Linked DNA regions of Homo sapiens: all the other regions are linked to region 1. The links come from fine-mapping of genetic effects on gene expression. A gene starts in region 1. Each other region holds a variant in brackets. All regions are shown on one strand. Distances are between the middles of the regions.

Region 1 (8,179 bases):
AGAAAAGAAACCAACAATATGGAGACGCTTTTGTTTTAATTAGAAGAACATCATGTATAGCTCTGTGCCAAACAAATTTGCAAATCTCCATTAAAAAGATGAGCTTTCTACCAGGGACAAAGAAGATTCCAATCTGGAACTTCAAGGCTGACAAATTCCATGCTCGTTTCTCCCTCCCTCATCCCTTGAGACCCCTCCTGAGTGGGTGGTCTTCCCAGAGGGCAAGGACCAACTACAGGTACCTCTTGCTCCCCAGAGCCCACCTGGACTAGCCTGGCCATGTGTGTGTTCAGTGGGCATGGAGGGTCAGTGCACCGTGCGGGCAGGGCTCACCTTGTTGGCACAGCTAAAGCCCAGCCCCAGCTGGGCCAGAACCTTCAGCACACCTGGGCTGCTGTTGCACTTGACAGCATAAAAGGGCCGGACTCGTGGCAGGCACTTCAGAAAGCAAAAGTGCTTCCTCACTATGGCACCCAGGTCAGCCACGAAGAAGGCAGCTACCTCGTCCTGAATGACAAGAAGTGGATGAATGTGAGACCCCATCCAGCTCGCACCCTGTGCATGCCATCCGTGATCCTTCCAAGTACCTGACCCAGGTTCAGTACTGGCCACAGAGCTACCCTGCTGCTAAGTTTTCTGGGCCTCCCCAAGCCTACAGGGCAGAAGGCAAACTCCTCAGCCTGGCATTCAAGGCTCTGATCTAGCCCCAATCCCTCCCCTCAATGCGGCTAAAACTCCAGCTGTAGGCTGGATCATTTTCCCACCTTCAAACCTTTGTTCCCACCATGTCCTGCAGAATACCCTCCCCACTCCTGTGTCTGGCAAAATCCTTAAAGTTTCACTCAAATGCCACCTTCCCCAAACCAATAAGGCAACTCTGCTTTTAAATGCTCCCACTGCATTTGCATATGCTTCCAAGGTATCAGAACTGCATATGCATCTGTCCATTCTAGAAAAGGGTAAACTCCCTAAAGGCAGAAGCTATGACCTACAGCTCACTGCCTTCCAAACACAGGTGCTCAATGAAGCCTTAAGCTAGTCCCACTGACACTGCAACCTATCCCTATGGACAACTGTTCATTGTAGATGTGCTAAAGGCCAAACATGTATGAGGCTGTGGGTGAGACCACATTACTTAAATGTGGAAGGGACCCTTCCAGAGTTGCTTCCCTGGGACTCAGTTTCCCTTTCATGCAACACTTTTTTACTCATGCCCACTTGGTGCCAAACGTTATGCTAAGGGACAGAGATGACCAAACAGTACTGTTGTTCTGAAGGAGCTTGGGTCTGGAAGAAAAGGAACCCCTTAAGTACTTACAAGTCCATTCAGCAGATGTTAGATGGCAGTTTCTACAAGGTGCAATGCAGGGGCATGGAGAAAGAAAATAGAAAATCTGCCTGGGGCGATCAGGAAAGGCAACACTGATGAGAAGCAAGGAATGACTAGAAAGGGGTAAAGAGGGGAGAGGCTGAGAGAAGGATGCTGCAGGCAGAAGGAACAGCCTGGGCAAAGGCATGGTAATAGCATCATTGGGCACACAGCATCATTGGGAAATGCAAATTGAGTCATTCAGCTCCGAAGGAGCATAATATATACTGTGGGGAAAGCTGGGAATGGGGCTATGGAGGCAGGGAAGCTCTGACTTGATCCTGTAGGCAGTGGAGAATTGCCAAATTCAGATTTTGAACAGGACTATGATACCTTTGGAGGGGGTGGCATGAGACCGGGAGATCAGGGGGCCTTTGGAGAGAGGAAGACTGAACTAGAAAGCGAGGTTCCACATAAGCACACTGGAGGCTTATTTAAGGAGGCAGAATTCACAGAGCTTGGTAATGCCTAGATGTGGGCGGTGAGGGAGAGGGGGCAGCAGGAAAGGAATCCCCCGTTTCTGACCTTGGAGGGCTGGGTAAAAAGGCAACATAGGAGGGGCAGGTTTGGGGGCAAGGACAAAGAATTGGGGATAAATTGAGCCCCTCTCTTGCAAATAGCAAGGATTGCGTACCAAATAAGCGAAAGGATAAGATGAGGGCCCTAGGGACCCTTCCTGAGGAGGCAGCTGATCTGTACAGGGGACCGGGGACCCACCCCCATTCCCAGCCCCTCACCGTGGTGGCCTGTGAGGCCCCCAGAGTGAGTTCCTTCAGCAGGTCTCGGGTACTGAAGCCCTCCTCCACCATCACAAAGTCCGATTCACTCAGGTAGCCAGCCATGCCTTGCAGGAGGAGCTGACGGGCTGGATGGAGCCGCTGCTGCAGCCGCCGCCTTAGAAAGTATGCAACACACTGCGGGGCGAGGGGAGATGAAGGGAACCGCTGGGGGGCCGGCTCTGCTGCCCCACTCGCCTCCCGAGGCCAGGGATCCCAATCCCGTCACAACCCGCCCCCAGCACAAGCCCGGGGTTCACTGGGCAAGGGTGGAGAAAGTCAAGAATCCCGGATTTCAGACGGAGACAAGGCACCGTATGCCCAAATGTCACTGCCTCTCCGAGTCAGTTGCTCCCTCTGTAAAATGGATGAATTGTTTTGGAGAGCCTTCCCAGTTCTGAAATTCTGGATTTCAGGAAAGAGTGAGAGAGAGATGGAACAGAAAATCTGAGAAACTTGGGTGGGGAAGTTTCCAGGGCGCCCCCAGTCTTGACCACGCCCACCTAGAGGGTAGCCGGTGGCCACATCAAGGCGTCTCAGCCTAAGAGCAAGAGCTTAAGTTCGAGTCCGCTCTCTACTGCTTGACCTCGGGTACCCTCTGACCCTTTCGGAGCCGCAGTTTCCCCAATTGTAAATGGGGGCTGGACTGATCCTGAGGTGCTAGAATTCTAGGCGTGCCTGGGGACGCCACGCGGTGGGTGGGGGCCGCAAGCTCCTGGGAGAGAACGGAAGGCCGAGGTTTTTTCTGTCCGAGTGACTCCTACAGAGTGCAGGGCTGAGGTCCCCCCAACCCCCAGGGCCCCTTACCAAACTCCGTCCTCCTTCGCGGGGGCCAGAGCCAGGCGCGCTGCTAGGGGGGGTCGCCGGTGACCTCGAAACTTGTGCAACACCCCGAGGAGGAGTGGCAGTTGCGGAGCCGAGGCCTCTGCTGACAGGAGGCAGAAGGGGCAGGGAGGCAGGTCAGCACCAGGGCGGAGGGCGTCCGCTCCCCGAGGCTCCCCAGGCCACTTTCCGCACTCGCCTTAAAACGCATTTACACGGCTTCGGCCCATAGGTCTCCCCAGGGAGTGAATCGGATCCTCGGCGCCTCCGCTCTCTCGCTTCCCCGGGCTCGGGTCCCGCGGCCTGCGCCCCGCCAGCCCAGCAGCCACAGACCCCCACGCCCCGCCTTCCGCCCGCCGCTGGCTTATATAACCCCGCCCAGGCCCCGCCCATAGTGCCGAGGCCCTACCTCCGCTTGGCCGTAGCCCTGGCAACCGGGTGCCGCCATCCCATTGGTCGATTCCGACATAAAGCATTCAGCTCTGCTCGCCCTTACTGTAGTCTTCTCCCCCGGAGGCCTGGCGGTGGCTACCTCACGCTGGAAGTCAGAACTACAGGGCCGCCGCCACGCAGGTGAGACACTTAGACCCTGCATCTTAGGTCTTAGAGAGTGGGCAGGACCAGGAAGCCTTTTCTGCCTCTGCCTCAACTTACTTCGTGGTCCAGCTCTTGTCTGCGTCAGGAACTGCTCACTCATCTCTCGAAACCCGGTTCCAATGACATGTCCTTGTATTACTTTTGTAATAAAATTCTTTTTATTTAATTGCCTCTTCCAGGCATCTTCCCCGACTCCAACTCAAAACGCATCTAAAATGTCTTCAGAGAACCTTTTTGTGACTTTCCCAGTTCAGGGCAATCCCTCCCTTTATCCCATCCTGTGAACCCGGCAAACTCTTACTCATCTCTCAATAGAAATGTGTCTCCTTCTCCAAGAAGCTTTCCCGGACTTCCTCAACTCAAAGCATTTCTTCTATACCGAAAGCTGCTGCTCACCCATCAAAGTCCTGTATAATGTCACCTCTGTTGAACCTTCCATGACTTGCCTGGCCCCAAGGAACACAGCATTTAGTCTGTCTGGACCCCTCACTCATTTGGTTCTTGTTACCCATAGCGTGAGATTCCTGTTGTTATTTTACACTTCTTGTTTGGTTACACTTTGCATCTAGTTTGTGATTTCCCAAGGGCAAGGACTGAATACCCTGCTCAAGAGCCTGGTGCCTGGCATAGACAAGAATGCTGAGGAAGATTCAATAGCTGTGTTACTCAAAAGCTGATATAAAAGTTCATCTGGAAAAGTAAGTGTACAAGAACAGTCAAGACACTCTTTTTGCCCAGGCTGGAGTGCAATGGCACGATCTCAGCTCACTGCAACCTCTGCCTCCTGGGTTCAAGCGATTCTCCTGCCTCAGCCTCCCAAGTAACTGGGATTATAGGCGCATGCCACCACGCACAGCTAATTTTGTATTTTCAGTAGAGATGGGGTTTCACCATATTGGCCAGGGTGGTCTTGAACTCCTGACCTCCAGTAATCTACCCGCCCCGGCCTCCCAAAGTGCTGGGATTATAGGCGTGAGCCACCGCGCCCGGCCAAAACTACAGTCTTTAAAACAGTATGGTGCTGGAGCAGGAAGAGACAGTGGTAAAACAGAACAGGGTCTACAACAGTCCCATATACATTGGAGATTGGTACACAATGGAGGCAGCATTTCAAATCAATGAAGCCAAAGGGCTTTTGGTCTACCATATGTCTTCATGTCCCCTGCTAGGCTGTGGGCTTTTTTTTTTTTTTTTCTCTTTTGAGACAAGATCTGGCTCTGTCACCCAGGCTGGAGTGCAGTGACATGACCTCAGCTCACTGCAACCTCCACCTCCCAGGCTCAAGTGATCCTCCAACCTCGGCCTCCCAAGTAGCTGGGACTACAAGTGCATGCTACCATACCTTGCTGATTTTTGTATTTTTTGTAGAGACAGGGTTTCGCCCTGTTGCCCAGGCTAGTCTCAAACTCCTGAGCTCTAGCAATCTGCCTGCCTCAGCCTCCCAAAGTGCTGGGATTACAGGCGTGAGCCACCATGCCCAGTGGGCTGTAGACTTTTTTTTAAATCAGAGGCACTTCTTGTCCCGCCTTAGTATCTCCCTAGGACACTGCACAACCTAGTTAGAACATGCTCAGTACACAAATGGTGTGGGGCAGGGACCAGAAGCAGGAGAGCCATTTTCTGCTCCCTACCCAGCTGGGACATATAATTGCTGGGTGTCCTTGGCTGAGTCACCCTAACTGGATCTGGGTCACTTCTGCCTGGCTTGATTTCCCCCTGTGAACTGAGAGGTTTCAGACTGATTTCTCTGGGCCCTTCTGCCTGGAACCATCTTGTTTTCTATGCATAGGAGTAGTATTTCAGGAGGCAGCTTTATAGGACAGTCATTTGCAGGACCTTTCTTTGAGATTAATAGTCATTTGCAACATAGTATGAGAACAAGTATCTACCAATCAGGAAGGGTAGATTAGGACGGCCATGGCAGAAACCCTAAAAGATTATACTGAGAGGGCCAGGCGCGGTGGCTCACGCCTGTAATCCTAGCTGAGATGGGAGGATCACGAGGTCAGGAGATCGAGACCATCCTGGCTAACATGGTGAAACCCCATCTCTACTAAAAATACAAAAAAAAATTAGCCAGGTGCGGTGGCGGGAGCCTGTAGTCCCAGCTACTCGGGAGGCTGGGGCAGGAGAATGGCGTGAACCCGGGAGGCGGAGCTTGCGGTGAGCCGAGATCACGCCACCGCACTCCAGCCTGGGTGACAGAGCAAGACTCTGTCTCAAAAAAAAAAAAAAAATTAGACTGAGAGGAGAGGAGCACCCGAATAACTTTGGCTCTACTTTTAGTTAAATCATTCTCTGAGCTGTCTGCATTTGGATGTCATGGTCTGGGTCTGCCCTACCAGCTTTTTTCATCACCTAGTAGGCACATAATAGGTACATTCAATATGTTTACTGAATGAATCAATAGAGGTAAGAAGAAACGAGCCAGAATCCAGTCTGTCCATTTGGAATCTATCAAGAGTAAGTAATCAGAGCAGAAAAATCTGCACCCTGGACTGAGTACAGATAGGCTGTGGCTTTTTCTTTTTTCCCTGCTTGTTATGTGATGTCATTGAAACTCCATGACAACCCTATGTCACAGGAGCCACATTTGTTCTCATTTTACAGATGAGGAATATAAAGCTCAGAAAAGTTCAATAACTTGCCCAGGATCACACAGCAAGTAAAGGTGAAGACTAGATTTAAATACAAGCCAATTCTGACCTTTAACCTTTATGCTTGACTGCCAATCAGTGGCTGAGAATTCTGGCCCCAGCTAAACAAAAGTTACACACTCATCCTGCCAGCATCCAACCCAAAAGCTGGTAGCTTCTCTTCTGCTTGTCTCTCATGCTACTGCTGTTGTAGCATCTATGATTGCTGTGCTGAGCCCTCAAGAACATGGAGCAGAAGCAGGATAAAAATCTTCTGATCTCTAGTCAGAATCATGTCAGCCAAGTCAATCTATTCTTCATAAACCAAGAGTAATCATAGTCACAAACGTTGCAATAATAAAAATGCCTTATTAGTACATAGAACTGGAGAGTTTGAAAAATACTTTCCTGTTCATCATTTTATTCAGGCTTCCCAAAATTCCACCAGTATTAATTTCTTAGGGATGCCATAACAAAGTACCAAAAATGAGTGGCTTAAAATAACAGAAATGTATTGTCTCCAGTTATGGAGGCTAGGAGTCTGGAGTCAAGGAGTTGGCAGGGCCATGTTCTCTCTGATGGCTCTAGGAGAGAATCTTTCCTTGCTTCTTCTAGCCTATGGTGTTAGCTGGCAATCCTTGGCGTTCCTTGGCTCGTAATGCATCACTCCAGTCACATGGCCGTCTTCTCCCTGTGTGTCTTCATATGATCTTCCCTCTATATGTGTTTGTCTCTGGGTCCAAATTTCCCCTTTTAATAAGGATGCTTATCATATGGGATTAGGGTCCATCCTAATGACCCCATTTAAATTTGATTACCTCTGCAAAGTCCTGTTTCCAAATAAGGTCACATTCTGTGGCACTGGAGGTTAGGACTTAAAAATAACATTTTACAAGGACACAATTCAACCCATAACACCACCAAACACTTCTTTTTTCATAATTGACCAAAATATAGATCCACGATGACACCTAGTTGCGAGGGAGGTGGGAAGACGTAGTCTTTATTTGGGTACATTGCTGTTCCTCCTACCCCCCAATAAAATCAAAATACTAATGAAGACAAGGAGAGAAGATATTTTGTGGTAACTAGTAGGGAAGATTATTTCTCCCTTTTAAAGATCAGTATACCACCGGGTGTGGCAGCTCATGCCTGTAATCCCAGCACTTTGGGAGGCTGAGGCAGGTGAATCACTTGAGGTCAGGAGTTCAAGACCAGCCTGGCCAACATAGTGAAACCCCATCTCTACTAAAAATACAAAAAATTAGCCGGGCATGGTGGTGAGCACCTGTAATCCCAGGTACTGGGGCAGCTGAGGTGGGAGAATCAATTGAACCCAGGAGGCAGATGTTGCAGTGAGCCAAGATTGCACCACTGCACTCCAGTCTGGGCAATAGAGCAAGACTCCATCTCTAAAAAAATAAAAAATAAAGATCAGTATATCAGTTGCTATGGTTTGAATGTGTCTCTCAAAAAGCTTGGGTTGTAATTTAATACCCAATGCAACAGTGTTGGGAGGTGGGGCCTAATGGGAAGTGTTTAAGTCATGAGGGCTCCACCACCATAAATGGATTAATGCCCATTATAAAAGGGCTCAAGGCTGTGAGTTCAACCTCTTGCTCTCTCTTGCCCTCTCCACCACCTTCCACCATGAAATTATGCAGCAAGAAGGCCTCCACTAGATGCAGCTCCTCAGTCTTGGACTTCCCAGCCTCCAGAGCCATGAGCCAATTTTCTGTTCATTATAACTTACACAGACTCAGGTATTCTGTTGCAGCAGCACAAAATGGACTAAGACACCAGTTCAGAATGATTATGGAATTTATTCCATAGGGAGAAGTAGACAGAGAAGTAAACAAACATTATTTGAGCACCTGTTGTGTGGCAGACATCATACTGAATGTTTACAAACACATGATTGCATTTAATCTTTAGATAACCCTGTAAGACAGGCATTATTAGCCCCATTTTACAGGTGA
Region 2 (8,179 bases), 22 kb after region 1:
GTGCACATCTCTGATTGGCCAGACCTGGGGCTTCAGCCCCTTGCCCAAGATGAGATCAGCCCCATTCTTACCATATGGAATGAGAGCGGGGAAGGTATGGTTCTCTAGTAGAAAAGTGGGGTGTTGTAACATGAAAAGGGGGAATGAATTCTAGCCAGGAAAAAAATGCCAATGGATTCGCTTATTCTCCTGCCTCAGCCTCCCAGGTAGCTGGAATTACAGGCATGTGCCACCACGCCTGGCTAATAATTTTTGTATTTTTTTAGTAGAGATGGGGTTTCACCATGTTGGCCAGGCTGGTCTTGAACCCCTGACCTTGTGATCTGCCCGCCTCGGCCTCTGAAAGTGCTGGGATTACAGGTGTGTGCCACTGCTCCCAGCCTGATATCCCTTTTTCACTGCTTTCCCCACTCCAAAACCACTCTTTGCCCTAATGTTTCTCCCACATGGCAACTATTTCCATCTCATATGGCAAGGGGCAGGGCAAAGTGGTGCAAAAACACTGGGCAGGGAGTCCTTAGAAAGGACCCACTTCCCTCTTTGGGTCTCAGTTCCCCACTCTGAGATTCCCATGATCTCTGAGACTCTTGGTGACTCTGATAGCATCTGCCAGTCTAATACCTTTATACATTGACCTAGGGAGTCTGGGTTGAGATTTGTGGACTTTTCCCTGATAGCAGAATGTGTGGCTCATTCTCCCATGAAAAGCATCACAGGGAATAGATGAAAAAAGTGTTTTCAAGTCTATGGTTACTGCTTCCCTGCCTCTGGGTTTGAGAACTAGACAAATCTGGATTTCTATCTAAAGCTGCCACATCACTTAGTAGTTCTATGACCCTGCCAACTTGCTTCAGCTTTCTGAGTCTCAGTTTTCTCCACTGTAAGATAGGTTTAATAATATCTTCTCCAGAGGGTTGTTGGAAGGAGCAAATAAAAAGATGCATGCAAAGCACTTTGCCTATTACCTGGGACACAGAAAGTTCCAAAAATAGCAGCTGTTATTAGCACCTGTCTTAATCCATTTTCTGTTGCTTATAACAGAATCCCTGAACCTGGGTAATTTATAAAGGAAAGGAATTTATTTCTTAGAGTTATGGAGGCTGTTAAGTCCAAGGTGGAGGAGCTGCATCTGATGAGGACCTTTCTGCTGGTGGGGACTCTCTGCAGAGTCTCAATATGGTACAGGGCATCACATGATGAGGGGGCTGAGCAAGCCAGCTCAGGTATCTCTTCCTTTTCTTATGAAGCCACCAGTTCCATTTCCTGATAACCCATTACTCCATCAATCCATTAATCCATGAATGAATTAATCCATTCATTAGGGCAGAGGCCTCATGACCCAATCACCTGTCAAAGGTCCCACCTCTCAATACTGCCACACTGGGGACTAACCTTAACACGAGTTTTGGAGGGGACAAACATTCAAACCATGGCAGCATCTGAGCCCTGAGTGGATTCCTGCTGCAGCTGTGGCCACATGGTCAGGGAGCATTTCTGGAGTCCTCTCTGCATAGTAAGTGTGGGCCTGAGCCCTGTGTGCAGCTGCTGTGGGGCTGGTTTGGTGGGCGGTGTCTGCGGCTATTTTGGAGACACCAGTTCCTATTGTCTAGACAGAGTTCCCTAAGGCCATCATCTCCCCAGCATAGAGGCTGAGCCCAGAAGTCTGAGTCATAGAAAGCACTTGAAAGTCCCTGGGAAAGCCATCTGGGCCAGGAGCACTTAGAATATTTTTCCCTACATGTTTCTTTTATTGAAATATTATATTCATCTTTTATTGCTGCATAACAACTCAAAACTTAGTAGCTTAAAACAACAAACATTGATTATGTCACCCAGTTTCTGAAGGTCAGGAATTAGGAGGCAGCTTAGCCATGTGGTCTGGCTCAGGGTCTCCCATGAGTTTGTGGTCAAGCAGACAGCTAGGGCTGCCAACATCTGAAGGCTTTAACTGGAGCTGAAGAATCCACTTGCAAGCTCACTTACATAGCTGTTGACAGGAGGCTTTAGTTTCTTGCCCCTCGGATTTTTTCATAGGGATGCCCAACACATGGGTTCTCCAGAATAAGTGACCTGAGGGAAAGGGAGATTGAGACCAAGACAGAACTGCAGTGTCTTTTTTTTTTTTGAAATGGAGTTTCACTCTTGTCTCCCAGGTTAGAGTGCAATGGTGCGATCTCAGCTTATGGCAACCTCCACCTCCCAGGTTCAAGCGATTCTCCTGCCTCAGCCTCCCGAGTAGCTGGGATTACAGGCACCTACCACCATACCTGGCTAATTTTTTTGTATGTTTAGTAGAGATGGGGTTTTGCCATGTTGGCCAGGCTAGTCTTGAACTCCTGACCTCAGGTGATCCACACGCCTCAGACTCCCAAAGTGCTGGGATTACAGGTGTGAGCCACCACGCCCGCCCTGCAGTGTCTTTTATAACTAATCTCAGAAGTGACACCCCATTACTTCTGCCAAATAGACCAACCTGATACAGCGTGGGAGGGGATAATACAAGGGCATGCACACCAGTAGGCAGGAGTCTTTGGGGGCTCTTTGAGGTTTTTTGTTTCTTTGTTTTGAGACAGAGTCTCGCTTTGTCACCCAGCCTAGAGTGCACTGGTGTGATCTCGGCTCACTGCAACCTTCCAGGTTCAAGCGATTCTCCTGCCTCAGCCTCCTGAGTAGCTGGGACTACAGGCGCACACCATCATGCCCAGCTAACTTTTTTGTATTTTTGGTAGAGATAGGGTTTCACCATGTTGGCCAGGCTGGTCTTAAACTCCCGACCTCAAGTGATCCGCGCACCTTGGCCTCCCAAAGTGCTGGGATTACAGGTGTGAACCACCATGCCTGCCTGGGGAATCTTTTGAATGCCACCTGCCATGGACATAATTCACATATGATGAAATTCACAGATCTTAGGCGTACAGTTTTATCAGTTTTAACAACGGAATATGTTTTTTTTTCGAGATGAAGTCTTGCTTGCTCTGTCGCCAGGCTGGAGTGCAGTGGCTTGATCTTGGTTCACTATAACCTCCCCTTCCCGGGTTCAAGCAATTTTCCTGCCTCAGCCTCCTGAGTAGCTGGGATTACAGGAGTGCACCACCGCATCCGGCTAAATTTTGTATTCTTAGTAGAGACAGGGTTTCACCATGTTGGCCAGGCTGGTTTCGAACTCTTGACCTCGTGATCCGCCCACCTCAGCCTCCCAAAGTGCTGGAATTACAGGCGTGAGCCACCACGCCCAGCCCAACAATCAAATATTCTAATATAACCCATATTCCTATCAAGGTTTTGAACATTTTCATTATGTCAGAACATTCTCTCATCCCCTTCCCAGTCAATTCCCCCTCACTCCAAGTAACTACTGACCTTATTTCCATCTCTATATAATCCACAGTTTTGCCTGGTCTAGAATGTGATAACATTGGAATCATAGAGTATGTACTCTTTTGTGTCCAGCTTCTTTTGTTCTGCATAATGATTTGAGATTCATCTATGTTGTTGTGTATCAATGGTTCATTTCTTTTGATTGTTAAGTTAGGCACTCCCACCTTTGTGTGGTTCTCACCCTTATTAAATGTGCCCTGTAACATGACATCTGGCAGTTAACTCTTCATTTCTACTTCTACTAGACTGTGACCTACTAGACTGTGACCAACTCAAGGACAGAGGTTGTATGTATCTCATTTATTTCTGGGTCCCCAACATGAGCTCAGTGCCTGGAAGGCAGTAGACCTGGGAACTGTCACATCCTGGAATTTGGGAGTTGGCTTGATGGGAAGTAGGGGACTGCAGGGAGTTGAGGGGCACTGACAGGACACCTGATCACTGGGGCTGGAAATCACTCCAAGACCCACCATTCACAGGCCCCATGAGCTCAGAGGGCTCTCCAACCAGAAGTTCCAGGACAGAGAGGGGGTTCCAGCCCAATAAACACAGAGTGGGCAGTGAGTCCACAGCTGTTACTCTAGGGCTCGGTCTTCCGGCCACTGGAAAACTCACCAACTGGGGACGGGCCTGAAAAGAAAGTAAAAATCGATTTTCTCTCACTTGTTTCTCTTCCCCTTTCACCCAGAGGGTGCACCTGACAACTAGACCCAACCGTCTGGCAGAGTTTGAAGCCCCTGCCCCCTCCAGCCCCACCCTCTCATGCTGCTCACACTGGCCCCACCCTCAGCAGGGCCATGAGGATATGAGGGTTGAGGCTCCAACACCTGCAGGCTTTCTGGAATCCCAGAAGCCCTAAAGCATAGACTTAGGGGTCAGAGCTGGCACTGAGTTCCTGCTTTACCACCCTCTGGTTGTGTGGCCTTGGCCAGATTACTTCCTCCTCTGTAAAACAGGGCCATAATTCCAGCTAGCAGGGTAGGTAAAGGGCTACTTACCTGACGGAAGTAGAGGGCTAAGTGCTGTGGATGGCAGAGAAAGGATGGGGTGACTTGGTGGTGGGAGGAGCCTGTGAGACCTTCC[G/A]TGTTTTTCCAGAAAGGTAGAATTAGCACCAGAGGGCCAGGCGCGGTGGCTCATACCTGTAATCCCAGCACTTTGGGAGGCCAAGGCGGGCGGATCACCTGAGGTCAGGAGTTCAAGACCACTCTGACCAACATGGCAAAGCCCTGTCTCTACTAAAAATACAAAAATTATCTGGGCATGGTGGTGCATGCCTGCAATCCCAGCTACCTGGGAGACTGAGGCAGGAGAATCGCTAGAACCCGGGAGGTGGGGGCTGCAGTGAGCCAAGATCACACCACCACTGCACTCCAGCCTGGATGACAGAGCAAGACTCCATCTCAAAAAAAAAAAAAGGCCGGGCACAGTGGCTCACGCCTGTAATCCCAGCACTTTGGGAGGCCGAGGCGGGCGGATCACGAGGTCAGGAGATCGAGACCATCCTGGCTAACACGGTGAAACCCTGTCTCTACTAAAAATATTTTTAAAAAATTAGCCGGGCCTGGTGGCAGGCACCTGTAGTCCTAGCTACTCGGGAGGCTGAGGCAGGAGAATGGCGTGAACCCGGGAGGCGGAGCTTGCAGTGAGCCGAGATCGCACCACTGCACTCCAGGCTGGGCGACACAGCAAGACTCCGTCTCAAAAAAAAAAAAAAAAAAAAAAAAAAAGAATTAGCGCCAGAGTCCACAAATGAGAACAAAAGCTGAGAAATGCTCCACCTTCCAAGCTCAGAAGCTCCCCTGAAGGGTTGATAGGAAGTGCTATTTCAGCAGAACTAGCACTATGTAGTGCTGTTCTATGCAGGAGCTATGCAGGGCTTGTGAAACGAAGCCATCTGTCCCTGTCTCCCTCAGGGTAGGGCAGGCAATTCCCCCAAGACAGGTTTTGCAATATGACCTTTTTACTTTGTCAAGGGGACCAGTCAAATTCTCCTCCTGGCCTTGGTGACTGCTACTAACCCAGAGAATGCAGCAGAAGTTACAATGCACCATTTCTCAGGCTAGGCCAAAAGAAACCTTGTAACTTCTTCCTTGGTCTCTTAGAAAGCTCAGTTTACAGGCACTCATTTTTGGTACCCAGGTGCTATGCTGTGAGAAGCCAAGCCACATGGGGAGGCCACGTTTAGGTTCTCCAGGTGACAGTCCCAGCTCAGGCACTGGTCATGTGAGTGAAGCAACCTCCAGGTGATTCCAGCCCCCAGCCATTTGAGTCTTCCCAGCTAAGGTCCCAGACATCATGGCGCAGTGTATTAGTTATGCACTGTTGCATGGCAAGTTACCCCCAGAATGTAACAGCTTAAAACAATAAATATTTATCATCTCACACAGTTTCTGATAGTCAGGAATCCAAGAGTAGCATATCTGGGTGATTCTGATTCGAGGTCTCTCATGAAATTGCAGTTAAGCTGTCGGCAGGGCTGCAGTCATCTACTTTCTCTGGGGCCAGAGGATCCATTTCCAAGCTCATTCATGTGGCCATTGGCAGGAAGCCTCAGTTCCTCTCCAGGTGGGCCTCTCCATAGAGGCAGCTGGCCTCACAACACGGCACCTGGCTTCCCCAAGGGAGTGATCCAAGAGACAGAGAGGCAGAAGCCACAATATCTTCTTTTTTTTTTTTTTCTGAGACAGAGTCTTGCACTGTCACCCAGGCTAGAGTGCAGAGTGGCACAATCACAGATCACTACAGCCTCTACCTCCTGTGTTCAAGCAATCCTCCTGCCTCAGCCTCCCAACTAGCTGCGACTACAGGTGTGAGTCATTGCACCGGCTAATTTTTTTTTTTTTTTGAGACGGAGTCTCGTTCTGCACCGGCTAATTTTTAAAAATTTTTTTGTAGATACAGGGTCTCCCTATGTTGCCCAGACTGGTCTCAAACTCCTGGCTTTTCTCAATCAAGTAGAAGCGATCCTTCTACCTTGGCCTCCCCAAGTGCTGGGATTATAAGTGTAAGATACCGCGCCCAGCCTCACACTATCTTCCACAACCTAGCTTCAAAAGCGACATACTATCACTTCTGCTATGTTCTATTGGTCACACAGACCAACTGATATGGTGTGGCAGGGGACTACACAAGGGGGTGAATACCAGGGGGGAGGGGACTTTGAGAGCCATCTTGGAGGCCACCTACCGTAAGCAGAGACCAGTCATCCCCACTGTGCCTTGTGAAACTCCTGACCCACAGATTCCATGACCATGATGAAATGGTGATTGTGTTATACCTCGAAGTTGAGGCTGATCCGTTAGTTACACAAGCTAACTGGAACAGAGCTAACTAGGACAGTAGCTAACTGGAACAGAGCCAAAAGAATCATTCATCAGGTGTGCGGTGCCACCAGAGGGCATCTGACTTCTCCTTCCCTGATGATGTTTGCTGAGCAACTACACTTGCCAACCTGTCCTGGTGCTACGAAATAGGGGAAAGGGCATGGAGAGGGAAGGCCAAGGATGTGATCAGGTGGCAAGGAGTGGCAGAAAGATGGATTCTGAGATTTTTTCTGAGACAGGCCTGTGTCCACAGGCCCCAGGCTGGGGCTGCAGAGGGTAGATGTGATGGGGCAGCAGGCCTGCGGGGGGCAAAGAGGTGCACTGTGAAGGGTGAGCCAGAGGCCACCAGCAGAGGAGAGCAACTAGGCACCAAGCCCTTTTGCAGCGTGCTACTCCATCACCCCGTGTCTACAGATAAGGAGCTGAGCAGCTGTGATGTCTGAGAGGACAGGAACACAGACACCTCGCGAGAAGCGAAGAAGAGGTCAGCCAAGGGCCAGCAGGGGACATCTAAGGAAACAAGTCCTTTTTTTCCTTCTTGTTTCTCCCCACCAGAGGGCAGACAAGAGAGAGCAGACCCATCTCCCCTCCATGCCATAGGCCTGCCTGCTGGACTGTGAGTCCCAAAGGAGACTGACCTTCGAAAATGGAAAGACCAAGTTAATGGCTGAAACAAGAGACTGCATTAATAACTAAAAACGACTGAAAAGTTTTGGAACCAGCTGGAGATGTCATCAAGGGGGCCAAATGTCCGTCAGGAAAGGGGATGACAGATTACAGTTGGTAGAAATTATTTTTAAAAATAACTGTTAGGCCAGGTGCTGTGGTTTATGCCTGTAATCCCAACACTTTGGGAGGCTGAGGTGGGTGGATTACCTGAGGTCAGGAGTTCAAGACCAGCCTGGCCAACATGGCAAAACCCCATCTCTACTAAAAATACAAAAATTAGCTGGGTGTGGTGGCATGCACCTGTAATCCAGCTACTCAGGAGGCTGAGGCAGGAGAATCGCTTGAAACCAGGAGGCGGAGGTTGCAGTGAGCCGAGATCCCACCACTGCACTCCAGCCTGGTGACAGAGCAAGACTCCGTCTCAAAAAAAAAGAAAAAGAAAAATACAAAAATCAGCTAGAGGTGGTGGCACCCACCTGTAGTATAGTCCCAGCTACTTGGAGAGGTCGAGGCTGAAGTGAGCTGTGATCGTGCCACTGCCCTCTAGCCTGGTCAATAGGGTAAGACCCTGTCTCAAAAAAAAAAAATTTTTTTTTGTTTGACGTTTACTTTAAGATTTTGATTTTTCTCAATCAAACTTGTCCCCAGAGTTATTGTTGTTATTGTCCTTGGCTGCTCCTCTTTTATCTCATTCATTCGCTCACACATAAGCACTTATTGTATGCCAGGCACTGTATTTGGCACTGGCCCTGGGATGCTGTGATAAGCAAAACAGACTCAATCTCTGTCTTCATGGAGCTTATAATCCT
Region 3 (8,179 bases), 90 kb after region 1:
CCCACCTTGGCCTCCCAAAGGGCTGGGATTACAGGCGTGAGCCACGGCACCCAGCCAATAATGGGAATTCTAAAGCAGGAAAGTGGTCCTTGTGCTAGGAATTATTATTTCCATTTTTTACAGATTTCAAAACAGACTCAGAAGAAGCAGCAAATTGCCCAAGGCCTCTGTACCAGTCAGGGAAACAGAGCCAATAGGATCTATATATATCACGCTAGGCCAGCAAGTCCCAAGATCTGCAGAGTGAGTCGGCAAGCTGGAGACCCAGGAGAGTGGTTTAGTTCCAGTCCAAGTCCAAAGTTATCTGGGTATCCCATGGTGCAGTCGGACTGACACCATCAAATTGTAAAATGGCTAAAACTAACCATCACAGCTCACAGCTAAAATGTGGCAGAGCTGGGGCTCAAACCCTGTTCTATCTGACTAGAAAACCCTTTGCTGCAGAAGCCACTGGGCAGAGACCCAGGCCTCTTCTCTCGTAGCCTGGACACCAGGGCTGTGCCAGCTAGAGAGAAGCAGCCAGTCACCAGCCAGGTTAGGCTATGGGCCTGTCAGATAACCCAGCAGGGTCTGAGGAAGGAGCTAACCGGAGGCCTCTGTTTTAGGTGGAACTCCACAAAAGGCTTTACACCTTCTTGGGAGGACAGGTGAGGGCAAGGAGATTGGGGCTTCAAAGGAGCTGCCCTGCAGAAGCCCTTTTCACTTTTCCTGTTCAAAACACCTTAGTGCTCATCACCCCATTTGAGCTCAGCAACTCTGAGAATGGGGAGGGGGAAAATACCCATTGGACAGATGGAGAAACCAAGATGCGGAGAGGTGAAGATGAACTGACTTGCCCAAGGTCACAGCTGAGAAGCAGAATCACAGGGCCCAGGACCCTGGAAGCTCACCTGCCTCCTGTTTTACAGAGAAGGAAGGAGAGGCCTAAAGAGGAATGTCCCAGCCAGGCACAGTGGCTCATGCCTGTAATCCCAGCACTTTGGGAGGTTGAGGTGGGCAGATCGCTTGAGTCCAGGAGTTCAAGACCAGTCTGGGCAATAGGGCGAAACTCCATCTCTACAAAAACAAAAATTAGCTGGACGTGGTGGCGCATGCGTGTGGTCCCAGCTACTCAGGAGGCACAGGTTGGAGGCTCGCTTGAGCCCAGGAGATGGAGGCTGTAGTGAGCCATGATCATGCCACTGTACTCCAGCCTGGATGACAGAGCGAGACCTTGTCTCAAACAAATAACAACCACAAAAAAAGAAATGTCCCCATTCCGCTGATGAGGAAGTGGAAACACAGAAGGTTGGGTCTCCTTCAAGCTGCTCAGTGAAAAGTGACGAAGCCCTCAACTGTCCTGGGCGTTTTCTTCATTCCTCCACAGCACTTGGCCTTTCCACTGTCCAACAGTCCAAACTTTACAAAATACTTGGCATGGCCACAGTATCTTGGGTTCAAGGTCATGCCACGGCCAAACCAGATACAACTTCACTCTCACCCAGTACCGAGGTCCAAAGAGGGGAAAGGACATCCCATGTCACCAGCAAATCAGGAGCTAACTCCAAAGGCTATTTTCCTGGCCCATCCCTTGGAGTGGCGGAATAGAGGCTTGGCTGGCAGGACCAGCCTCCAGATGACCCTAGTAATTGCTTGGGGGGAGGGAGGTTCTGAGGCCCAGAAATGGCAAGTGGTCTGAGGTTTCATGTTAAAACCTGTTTCTGCTCTAGCCCAGCAGTCGGTGAACACCAGGTACTTTCTGATGGTGAATGAGGTTGGTGCAGGGCTGCATTATCTGCTCCACATCCCACCATGAGAACATACCAGGAGTGGGGGCTTTCCACCCAGATCCCCAAGAAGTTGCTCCATCATTCTGTCTCACCACAACCATTTCCTTCTCTAAAAACTCCCTTCCCTGCAAGCCCTGAGACCAGCCAGGCTCTCACCACAGAGTATATGCAGACTTGCTTCTTCAGCTGTGGCCACACCAGGCTCAGGAATGTCCCAGGAGGCCCTCCCATCTCTGTTGCTGCCACAAGCTGAGGGCGTGTCAGGGGCTGGCCTCAGGAAAGGTTGGGCCTGAAGCTACTGCCTCTCTGAGTAAGAGTAATGCTCCTAACCCCTGCAAAGCAGTTTACACCCAACAGCTCACTTAATCCTCACAGCTATCCTGTGGGGATGGAAATAGTCATTATCAATGGCCATTTTACAGGAAAGGAAACTGAAGAGAGGGAAGTAACTTAGGGTAACACAGCTTTTCAGCCTGACTCTGAGCTCTCTGCTTCTCTTAAGGGGCTGCTTAGTGGACTCAAAAGAGGTATCGAGTATCAGGTTTTGGTTTTTGTTCTGCTATCAGAAAATTTTTTGAAGATTGCCTGGGAGAGAGGTAGGACTTCTAATGATGCCAAAGCAGGAAGAGTCCCCCAGGATGGTGAAACTGAGGCAGGGGGGAGGAGACATGTCTTAGCTAGGGTTGCACAGCAGGTGAACTGGCTGGCGCTGGACCCGGCGGCAGGAAGTACCCGCTAAGCTTGGACCTGGATTCATTGGCCAGCCAGCCAGGCTGCCGCCCCTTATCCCTAAGGCCTCTGTTTCTCTGCTATGTAGGCCAGGCCCTCCTGTAGGTCACGCCTCAGTCATCAGTGATGGGGTGACAGAAACTGTGGGAGCCAGAGTGCAGCTGCAGTAGGAAACCAGCTTGGTTGCATCAGTACTCGGGTTCTAGCCCCACCAAGTTAGGCAAGGGCACCCCCCTACCTGGGCTACAAATCTCCCACCACTCCAGCCCCACCGTGTCCCCCTCCCTTTACCCCTGACCCGTGATGGCTCTGCCCCTAGCGACACTCTCGCTATGAGGGGCAGAGCCTCTCATCCCAGCCTGTGCCAGGCAGGAGCCCTGCTCCCATACGTGGCAGGGCCCACCTTGGGAGGTGGAGGATTCTCTCCCTAGGAGAAAGAGGATTCTGCTGGTGGATGACACCTGCTACTACTGACTCATTCATGCATTCAGTCTCTTCTAAGTTTGTTCATTCCATCAACACATTCTTTTTGTTTGTTTTTTGAGATGGAGTCTGGGAGGTGGAGGATTCTATCCCTAGGGGAAAGAGGATTCCGCTGGTGGATACCTGCTATTACTGACTCATTCATGCATTCGTCCATTCATGCATTCAATCTCTTCTAAGTTTATTCATTCCATCAACATGTTATTTTTGTTTGTTTGTTTTTTGAGATGCAGTCTCACTCTGTTGCCCAGGCTGGAGTGCAGTGGCATGATCTCGGCTCACTGCAGCCTCCACCTCCTGGGTTCAAGCAATTCTCCTGCCTCAGCCTCCCGAGTAGCTGGGATTAC[T/C]GACACGCACCACCATGCCCAGCTAATTAATTTTTTTTTTTTTTTGTATTTTTAGTAGAGACAGGGTTTCGCTATGTTGGCCAGGCTGGTCTCAAATACCTGACCTCAGGTGATCCACCCACTTCAGCCTCCTAAAGTGCTGGGATTACAGGCATGAGTCACAACACCCGGCCTCCATCACAAATTCTTATCCAACCCCTTCTAACCTGACAGCCACACTGGGTCATGCCTTCTGCTGGACCCTGGGGACACAGAAAAGAATAAAGTGGACATGGCCCTGCCCTGGAGGAGCTTATAGGGTAGAGGGGCACTGTGTCGTGTCTGATGCTATAACACAAAGATAGACATGGGACAGCAGCAAGACAGAGAGGGAATGTGATGTGTGAGAGCAGCAAGGTGGGGAAAGATACAAAGGGGGACAGCATCTGCCTTGGAGGAAGAAGGGAGCAGTAGTTGGCCAGATGAAGAGTTAACGGTAACAAGCCCAATACAAACTCCGAAGGCATTTACTGTGTGCCAGAAGCTTTATTCTCATTAATTTCTTTTTTTTTTTTTTTTTTTTGAGACGGAATCTCACTCTGTTGTCCAGGCTGGAATGCAGTGGCACAATCTCCGCTCATTGCAAGCTCCGCCTCCCAGGTTCACGCCGTTCTCCTGCCTCAGCCTCCCGAGTAGCTGGGACTATAGGCGCCCACCACCACGCCCGGCTAATTTTTTTGTATTTTTAATAGAGATGGGGTTTCACTGTGTTAGCCAGGATGGTCTCAATCTCCTGACCTCATGATCTGCCCACCTTGGCCTCCCAGAGTGCTGGGATTACAGACGTGAGCCACCACGCCTGGCCTTTTTTTTTTTTTTTTTTTTGAGATGAACTCTCACTCTGTCACCCAGGCTAGAGTGCAGTGGCACGACCTCCACTCAATGCATCCTCTGCCTCCCAAGTTCAAGTGATTCTCCTGCCTCAGCCTCCCGAGTAGCTGGGATTACAGGCATGCGCCACCACTCCCAGCTAATTTTTGTATTTTTAGTAGAGATGGGGTTTCACCATGTTGGCCAGGCTGGTCTCGAACTCCTGACCTCAGCTGATCTGCTCACCTCAGCCTCCCAAAGTGCTGGGATTACAGGCGTGAGCCACCTCACCTGGCCCTCAATTTCCATCTTTACAACAAACCTGGAAAGCAGATATTATCAGCCCCCTTTTACAGATGAGGAAATTGAGGCTTCAGGAGGTTAAATGAATTTCCAAAGTGGTATAACTCATAAGTACAAAAGCCAGAATTTGAACCAGGTTTGTCTATCTCCAAATTCAGTGCTAAATTTAGACCTAGAGTTAAGTTAAAAAATACAGGATGGTAACTGCAAAGGACTGGAGGCTATATCCAAAAGAATAGCAATGGTAGTCTCGGGGGGGATGAGTTTACATTGTTATGCATTGATGTACATTTGAATTATGAGACAAGAGATGTTCATATATGCTGGAATTCACAATTATTCCTGCAGTACATTAGTTTCATTTTCTCTGATTCTTTTCTTTACCCCAGAAATGGAAATTGCTTAAGTGGGTTTTTTTTTTTTCTTGAATACAAGAATATAGGATCCTTTTTTTGAAAATCAGATGTCAATTTTAGGATGACCATTACCAGTGAGGTTTTTTTCCCTTTGTGTTTTCCTAACTTACTATATCAAGCACGTCTTTCATAATTTGAAAGTAATGTTATTTTTAAGAAATGAATTGCACACATCAAGGACTGGAGTGACCCAGCCGACGCAAGTTCCTGTAGTTCCTGAGAAAAAGGCTTGGAGGTTTTGCGTGACCTCAGACCAGAGTGAGTCAGCAGGGTGAAGTGGCTGCCAAAACACCAGGCAAGCAAGTAGAAACATGGTCCCAGATTTGAGAAGGAAACCTCCCCTGCTCCTCAGGGCTGATCAAGCTTATCTGAGGCTCAGACATACAGGAGAGCTACCCTGAAGCTAAAGAGAGACCTAAGCACAGCTGAGGGACCTTGGAGAAGAGGCCTTTAGGGGAAGGTCTTTACAGTGCATATGCAGTTGGCATGCCTGTATGAACAGGCTTGACCAGGCGGTTTACCCTACCCAGCCAAATAGTGAGCTACCTATTACTGCAAGTATGCAAGGAAAGATGGGAAGAGTACCTTATATTAAAGGGCAGCTGTGTGGGTGATAGATTGCATTAGCAGACAACCCAGATATTAAGACATACAGTGTTTGTAGGACATGAGGGGGAAAAGATACCTACCTAACTCAACATCTCAGAGGGAGTATACTAGAACTGTCAATAGTAAGCCAATTGGGTACTAGGCTTATTACATATATATCAGTGGTTTTCAAACTTGAACTACACCAGAATTCCTGGAGGGTGTGTTGTAACACAGATTGCTGGGCCCCATGCCCAGGGTTTCTGATTCAGTATGTCAGAAGTGGGGCTACTTCACAGGTGATGTTAATGCAGCTGGTCTGGAGACCACACTTTGATATGCATGATCTTATTTATTTGTCACTGCCACCTTATAATGGAGGTTCTGTTATCCCCATTTTCCAAGTTAAAAAAGCAAAACCAAACAAAAACATCATCTGAGGCTTCTCAGAGTTAAAATTACTATTTATAACTAGTAAGTGGCAGAACCAAGATCTTTGAATCCAGATCTTTTTTTTTTAACAGGCTTAATTCATTTTATTTTTTCTTGTGTAAAAACTCCGTTGACCGGGGCAGTGGCTCACACCTGTAATCTTAGCACTTTGGGAGGCCGAGGCATACGGATCACTTGAGCCCGAGTCCCAGACCAGCCTGGGCAACATGGCAAAACCCTGTCTCTACAAAAAACACACACAAAAAATTAGCTGGGGGTGGTGGTGCATGCCTGTAGTCCCAGCTACTGGGTTAGGGAGTGGCTAAGGCAGGAGGATTGCTTGAGCCCTGGAGGTTAAGGCTGCAGTGAGCTGTGGCCATGCCACTGCACTCCAGCCTGGGCAACCCTGTCTCAAAAAACAAAAACAAAACAAAACTCTATATTGTATACATAGCTGGAGCCTGGGTCCTCCGCACAGAGACTCTGGTCTGGGTCTTGATGAGATGGTCAGTGAACTCCTGATAGGGAAACTTGATGAATATGGTCTCTCTCCAGAGGTTGAGGGTCAGATAGCTATAATTCTTGGAGATGGCACCAAAGGTGGCCTTGGCGAAGTTGCCCAGGTGGCAGTGCAGCTTTGGGTTATGCTATGCCCATGATTTATCAGCTTTTTTTTTTTTTTTTTTTTTTTAGATGGAGTCTCTGTTGCCCAGGCTGGAGTGCAGTGGCGCCATCTTGGCTCACTGCAACCTCCACCTCCTGGGTTCAAGTGATTCTCCTGCCTCAGCCTCCCGGATAACTGGGACTACAGGCGCGTGCCACCACACCCGGCTAATTTGTTGTATTTTTAGTAGAGACGGGGTTTCACTATGTTGGCCAGGCTGGTCTCAAACTCCTGACCTTGTGATCCACCCACCTCGGCCTCCCAAAGTGCTGGGATTACAGGCGTGAGCCACCGTGTCCAGCTGATTTCTCAGCTCTTACAGCTCCAGGGTACTTAGGTTGTGGGCTCTCTGCTGGGGTAGTACTTTTTCTTTCTGTTATGACGCAATACACCTGGCTGAGGTGTAGCACTGGTCTGTACTAGCCATCAGCAGCATCTTGGGCACAGGGGCCAAGGTGATGCCATTGCCTCAGTGGGGCAGGGATAAGGCACACCAGCACAGAGCCACAGCAGCCTGTCACCTTGCAAGAGATGGTGTGGGGGCTAACTGATCTTATTCCCCCAGTGGCTTCTCTGCACAGGGACAATGGAGAGCCTGACCAGGTGATGTCCCCTCAGATGGCCGTGGCTACCTCCTCGGAGCACTTAACACCCAGACCAACGTGGCCACTGTAGTCCCCAATGGCAACACACACCTTGAACCTGGTATGCTGGTCAGCGCAGGTCTGCTTTTGCACGGGCGTGGTCTTCAAAACCTCATCCTTGAGAGATGCCCCCAGGAAAAAGTCAATGATCTCAGACTCCTCGATGGTCAAGGAGAAGGGCTAGATTTCCTCCAGGGACTTGATCTTCATGTCCTTGACCAGGTAGCCCAACTTGGTGACAGGCATCCATTCCTCATCTTCATCCTTGCCTCTGCAAGCTCCATGGCCCAGGCCCTGACCCCAACCACTATCCAGGCCCCAATGCCACTGCCAAAGCCTCCGTGGAAACCACTATGACCTCCCATTCCAGGGCCCCAAGGGCCTCTGAGTCCTCTCTCTGCACCAGTCATCTGCACTTTGGTGTTTTCTCAGGGAAGAAGTTGAACCAAGATCTTTCTGACTCTGAAGTTCATGTTTAACTAAAATGGTTACTTCCTTTTCTCAATTAATAAACAGAAACAAAGATTCTAGGCCAGGCACAGTGGCTCATGCCTGTAATCCCAGCACTTTGGGAGGCCAAGGTGGGCGGATCACCTGAAGTCAGGAGTTTGAGACCAGCCTGGTCAACACGGTGAAACCCCGTCTCTATTAAAAATATAAAAATTAGCTGGGCATGGTGATGGGCGCCTGTAATCCCAGCTACTCGGGAGGCTGAGGCAGGAGAATTGCTTGAACCTGGGAAGCAGAGGTTGCAGTGAGCCAAGATCGTGCCATTGCACTCCAGCCTGGGCAACAGAGCGAGACTCCGTCTCAAAAAATAAAATAAAATAAAGCTCTTAAATTACCTGTACTGCACAATAATTCTTTTGTATGCTCAATTATTTTGTATGCTCAATGAGAATTGGTTTTCATAACTTTTCGAGCTTCTTGGGCTGCATTCCTTGGCTGGTGGTCC

Direction of the effects. Positions count from the first base shown, and alleles are read on the strand shown. Sizes are in standard deviations (SD) of each study's normalised expression. Not every link is listed here.
As copies of A replace G in region 2, the expression in transverse colon of the gene that starts at base 3,308 in region 1 goes down (small effect, 0.33 SD a copy in GTEx).

What was found. PIP is the estimated chance that this variant, and not a neighbour inherited with it, causes the effect.
Region 2: its variant is fine-mapped to the expression of AZIN2 in transverse colon (GTEx, PIP 0.96).
Region 3: its variant is fine-mapped to the expression of AZIN2 in whole blood (TOPMed, PIP above 0.99).

The regions. Positions count from the first base shown.
Region 1 is chr1:33,076,282-33,084,460 of GRCh38, reverse strand. AZIN2 (antizyme inhibitor 2) reads right to left here and starts at 3,308. Exons shown (of 12, transcript NM_052998.4): 1 at 3,167-3,308; 2 at 2,953-3,073; 3 at 2,649-2,860; 4 at 2,107-2,283; 5 at 334-507. The coding sequence starts at 2,211. LOC105378635 (a long non-coding RNA gene) reads left to right here and starts at 3,465. Exons shown (of 3, transcript XR_947163.2): 1 at 3,465-3,540; 2 at 4,134-4,262; 3 at 6,175-6,577. RefSeq lists an enhancer at 1-365 and a silencer at 3,087-3,346.
Region 2 is chr1:33,054,391-33,062,569 of GRCh38, reverse strand. It overlaps LOC124903969 (a long non-coding RNA gene), which reads right to left and starts at 6,066. Exons shown (of 2, transcript XR_007065697.1): 1 at 5,762-6,066; 2 at 3,664-4,008. RefSeq lists an enhancer at 7,148-7,442. The variant G/A (reference allele first, on the strand shown) is at 4,462.
Region 3 is chr1:32,986,416-32,994,594 of GRCh38, reverse strand. It overlaps the pseudogene LOC100419257. Among named protein-coding and RNA genes, the nearest start is that of RNF19B, 26 kb to the right of the region's middle. RefSeq lists enhancers at 1,629-1,678, 1,689-2,108, 1,866-2,382, 5,147-5,406. The variant T/C (reference allele first, on the strand shown) is at 3,329.